Regions from separate parts of the Homo sapiens genome. Here region 2 is linked to region 1. The links come from fine-mapping of genetic effects on gene expression. Tissue or cell type: whole blood. Region 1 holds a variant in brackets; the other region holds the start of a gene. All regions are shown on one strand. Distances are from middle to middle.

The links. PIP is the estimated chance that this variant, and not a neighbour inherited with it, causes the effect.
Region 2: SCRN1 starts here. The variant in region 1 is fine-mapped to the expression of SCRN1 in whole blood (INTERVAL, PIP 0.97).

The regions. Positions count from the first base shown.
Region 1 is chr7:29,919,519-29,922,275 of GRCh38, forward strand. It overlaps SCRN1 (secernin 1), which reads right to left. Exons shown (of 8, transcript NM_014766.5): 8 at 591-2,757. Among named protein-coding and RNA genes, the nearest start is that of FKBP14-AS1, 68 kb to the right of the region's middle. The variant C/A (reference allele first, on the strand shown) is at 1,077.
Region 2 is chr7:29,988,511-29,991,114 of GRCh38, forward strand. SCRN1 (secernin 1) reads right to left here and starts at 1,291. Exons shown (of 8, transcript NM_014766.5): 1 at 1,132-1,291. It overlaps FKBP14-AS1 (FKBP14 antisense RNA 1), which reads left to right and starts at 146. Exons shown (of 3, transcript NR_187577.1): 1 at 146-283. RefSeq lists silencers at 518-637, 728-997, 1,008-1,057, 1,078-1,417.

The sequences.
Region 1 (2,757 bases):
TAAGGATGAATAATATTCCATTGTATGGATAGAACACATTTTGTTTCTCCATTCTTCCATCTGTGGATATTTGAGTTGCTTCCAGATTTTAGCACTGTGAATAGTGCTACTATGAACATGGGTGTGCAACCTCTCTTCCAGACCCTACTTTCAATTCTTTTGTGTATACCCAGAAGTGGGATTGCCCGATTATACAGCAGTTCTGTTTTTCATTTTTTGAGCAACTCCATACTGTTTCCCACAATGGATGCACTGTTTTACATTCCCACCAACAGTACATAAGGGTTCCAATTTCTCCACATCCTCACCCACATTTGTTATTTTCTGGTTGTGGTTTTTTGTTGTTGTTGTTGTTTTTGTTTTCAATAGTAGCTATCCTGACGGGTGTGAGGTGATATTTCGTTGTGGTTTTATATTTAAAGACTGAATTTATCCACAGAACATTACATGATGCAAGAAACTGCTGAACTGACTGTTTTCTAAAGATTCTAGCCAGAAAAATATATCCATTCTCATACATTTTCTATATTGCGACTGAGGCCCACGTTTATTCACGAGACACAAAACAGAAGAGGCCACTCCACTGGATGTTAATTTCAGTTTTTTTTATTGTATGCTTGATGCATTTAGAGACAATTCCAAGGGCAAGCACTGGATAGGGATATTATCTGCTTTGTAGATATTTGTACAAAAGACTGTTAAGACTACATGGCCAGTTCCCACTGCAGGAAACAGAATGATTTTCTTTTTTTTTTATTATTATTCCCTGCCAATAGCATTTTCCATCTAACACATTTAAATTCTCACAGCATAATTGCAAACATGTACATATTGGTTCCCACGAGAAATCTGCAGGTGACATTTCGGGATGTTTGGAGTCAATCAGATAAAGCACATTATGACAGAAACCATAAGAGGGGAGCTGGGACCTGGGACTGTGCAGAATGAAAAGCCACGGCTACGGGAAGCATAAGCTTGTGCTGCAACGGCATGTGCACATGACCTGCTGCTCCTGGCCCTCTACGAAGCATGCCCAGCAAGGGAACCTCCTCCGTCCCTCCTCCACGTGCTTCCTT[C/A]CTAAGGCTGAGAGCTCAACTGAAGACCTTCCCCAATAAATGACAGATGGCTCTTCAGTCAGGAATGCAGTTAGTGGTTTCATGACAGACACACTGGTCCCACCCGGCTTCCCTGCTGAACCACCCAGTACTGAATAACACCTGTACCAATGTGGGATGACATCAGCTAGGAAGCAAAGTAATTTGCCTGGTTGATGATTATTTTTTATACCTAATGATTCACCCAATAGTAAAGGAACCCCACAGCTAAGGTCTAACAGGCATATACCTGCTCTGTTAGTTTATAAGAAAGACTCGTTCTAATAACACCAGGTCTTATATTATTGAGCACTAAGGAACCTCCATAATTTCGATTATATTCTACCTAAAATTTCAAAGCACCTCCAAGAATGAAAGGGTACTATTTCTGCTTTGCTAATTTACTCCTGCCAGAGCTTCTGTCCTTGAATATGAGGGCTATCTTCACCTATAGTAAATCCCATCTATTAGACAAGACTAGCTAGCTTATGTTTGGTTATGGGGCAAGGGAGTGGGGGAGAGATTCTGTCCTTTCTGGCTATGGCTTCTTTCTGCACAAGCATGCTCAGCCCCCACCCCAGTCTGAAAAGATACACAAAGGGTTTCCTAGGAAGCTACTTATACACTATGACCCTTAAACATAATTTTTGTATTTCATCTTGAATATTCATGTTCCCTATACTGCCTTCAGAAAAGCAATCCCTGGTCCACAAATTATTCATGTAACAAGCATTTTTCAAAAGCAAAATCTGTTAGGAACATTTAAAAATGAACATTCCTCACTATAACAGCCTGCTCAAAACCCAACAACCTATTTCCAGCTGTTAATATAAGTACATAAAGTCACTAAAAGTAAGCGCAGCCACATCAGCAGATTCTCTGCTCTCTTGTCGTCTTTCTCCACCCATCCCAATGCACAACTGTCAACTGTGCTTATAGACCACCTCCAGACCTGATGGGAGCTGCCACACCCCTTTTAACTTTTGCCAGGCTGTACCATGCCCTCTAGTGGTAGGACTAGGACATCACAATTGTGGTGCAGAGTATTAGCCAAGACAGCTCTCAATTAGGGTTGCCTTCTTTAAGATGCTTGACCAAGGTCAATGTACCCTAACAGAAGTAGCCATTGTGTTTCCCAATGGGTAATGACATAAAGCGGGTAGGGTTATCCATGGCCTTTGTTTGGCCCATAGAAATGAAAGGAGGCTTCTGTGTAATTAATTCTTACTAGACTTCTTTTGATCAAATCCTGAATCACCTTGGTTATCTCAGACATGTCAGGTCTGATGAGACATTTCATAGTAGGCGAAGGTGAAATCACTCAGTGAGATTTTAGAGCAGCTTTCTGTATCATCTTGCTTTACATAGCCACTTGGAACATGGACTTGGGAGGGGAGAGTTACCTACGTCATCCTCGAACCTCACTTTCCCCCCCCCTTAACAGTGATAGAAAGACACTTTTAGAATAGCCGCCCCACCTAAAAGGACACTCTAAATTCACCAACAGTGAAAGCCCAGGCCAAACCTGCGTGAAGCTCTTAGCAGCTACAGGCCACCATTATTGGTTGCCATTAACTCTGTCAGCTGAAATCGTCTTCCCATCACCCACAATGTGTGGTTAATGATTTTATATACAGAGTTTACAAAACTGCTGACTAAAAAG
Region 2 (2,604 bases), 69 kb after region 1:
GTCAGGGGGCAGCTGATGGTTGTGGTCTGTGCTGCTTCCGCCTGGCCTATTTTTCATGCTGCCATTTTGAATTAGCATAGGTTTCCTCCGCAACTGATGCATCTTCTAACCAGGCTGGGAACACAACACGCGCACACGCGCACACACACACGCACGCACCCACCCCACCCGGCTGCCGGACGCAAGCGTAAGTCAAGGACTTGCATGCTAGAATCAGACAGAAAATCCAGAAAAGCCACGTTATTTAACAGAACCCTACAAGGTCAGCTTTGAGTCAAAGCAGGTAACAGTTTCCTTCGATGTTTTCATGGACATTTTTATTCCCAAATCCGAGTTCTCGCCAATTCTCTAAAGTTCAAGCGCCCCTCCTGCTTTGCAGACCACATTTCTCTCGGCCCTCGCGAGTGAGGTCGCCAAATACTCGACGCCTCAAGAGCGAGCCGAGGAGGCAGAGGCCGACCAAGCCGGCCTCTCGGCAGCCCCGCCCGGCGCCCCGCGGAGAACGCCCGGGTGCGGCTCGAGGGAAGTTGTGTCAAGTCCCACGCGCGGCCCGCGGAGAACCCAGGGGCGGCCCGCGCGCGTCGGCCTAGCGGGGAGGGCTGCTCCGGGACACGGTGCGGCGGCCGCGGGCGAGTTGGACGCGCTGGCAGAGCCGGGCCGAAGGCGGCGGGCGTCTCCGGGCAGCCATGTTCGCGGCGCCCGCCCGCGCAGCAGGTACGGCACCTCGGGGAAGGTGCCCGGCTCGCCCCAGACCCCAGGGTGGCGAGGCCAGGGGCCCACAGGCACATCCCAGTGGGCAGCAGGTTGGCTGCCAGGAAAAGGAAACCCAGGAAGAGCAGCGCGGGGAACCCGGCTGCGGTGCGGGAGCCCGGGGCCGGCATCCCTCCACTGCACCCCCGCAGTCCCCGAGCCGAGTCACCCCGGCTTCAGGCCGAGGCCACCTCTCCTCTGACCGCCCCCAGGCTCCCAGCCCGCCCGGGCCAGCACCGGGAATCGGCCTGGGGTAACGCTACCCGCGGGTTCGGAGGGACAGCGGGAGGAGATGAAACGCAGGAGGTGGCGATGGCGGGTGGGGTGAAACCGCCGGGAAAGCAGCGCTGCAAACGCCCTGCGCTCCCAGACGCGGCTCACCTGGGGCGGCGGGCTCCGGGCTCCGCTCTCCGCTCTGCGGTGCTGAGGCTGCGGCCGCCGAGGGTGCGGGTGCTGCCGGGTCCGGATTACTGCGGCGACCTCGGGGGCTGCAGCTGCAGTGGCGGAGGCGGCCGCCGGGCGCTTCCCCCTACCCAGACTCCCGGCGCTGGGGCCCGCCGCCCCCCGCAGCAGCTGGCCCGACTCACGTGACCGCGGGCCCACCCTCCGCCTCCCCCACCCCGGCCCCCGGGGCCCCGCCGCACCCCGCGCGTCTGGCTGCACGGGCCGCGGCGCTGCTCACCGTCGAGTAGGGAGGGGGCCTGGGAGCTGGAGGAGCGGCCGAGAGGGCGTATCTCGCCGCAGAAAGTGGCCCCCTCTTTGCTAGATTTTTATTTCTTGGTTGTGGCTCTCAAAAGGGAAAACCCGGGCTTCAAGGAGCCAGGCCCAGCATCCTTTTGGCGCCTCTTCCCGACGTTTGGTTGCTACGTCCGGGCCTCGGCGCCCACACAAGATTTCCCCGGAGAGAAATGTGTCCTGTACCTTGTTGACTCGCACGTCCAAGTCGAGTCCCTGGTTTTAAAAGTGCCGTCCTGTACCATGTTGGTAAGCCAGACCCTGTCCCAGGTACTTGGACATTGTGGCCTAGAGAGGTTAAGTAACTTGCCCAAGGTCACACAGCACGTAACTAAGCCAAGATTCCATATCTGGGTTAATAAAGTTATGTACAGGGACTTGTGTGTTGTGTGTCTGTGTGTGTGTGTGTGTGTGTGTGTTGATGCCAGCGTCAACTCCATCTTTTATAAGTAAATAAGAAAAGACTATCTCAAAAGATATGAAGACGTAATTCAGAGGAAAATAAATGCAATTCTATCCTGGCACACGAAAAGATATTCAGGCTCACTTAACTGCAAATCAAATATGTGGGGTAGCATCTTCCACCAGCCAGATTAACAAAAATCAAAACATTTTGAGTCTTGCTTTGTCGCCCAGTCTGGAATGCAGTGGCAGGATCTCGGCTCACTGCAAACTCCGCCTCCTGCCTCCCGCCTCCCGCCTCCCGCCTCCCGGGTTCAAGCGATTCTCGTGCCTCAGCCTCCCAAGTGGCTGAGACTACAGACCCACGCCACCAGCCTCGCTAATTTTTTTTGATTTTTAGTAGAGATGGGGTTTCACCATGTTGCCCAGGCCGGTCTCAAACTCCTGAGCTTAGGCAATCCGCCTGCCTCTACTATCCAGCTTCCTTTAAAAAGGAGAATGATCTTTATTTGCTAATACAAAACTATTTCCAACCTATACTAACTAAAGAAAAATAAAAAGCTAGGTGCAGAACGTTGTGTGTGTTATTTGTGGGAAGAAAATATATATGTATGTCTGTACTTATTTTTGTAAATGCACAGAGTATCTTTGGAAGAGTACGTAAGAACCTGTAATAGATGCCACCAGGGAGCAGAACTGGGAGACTGGGTGCTGGGG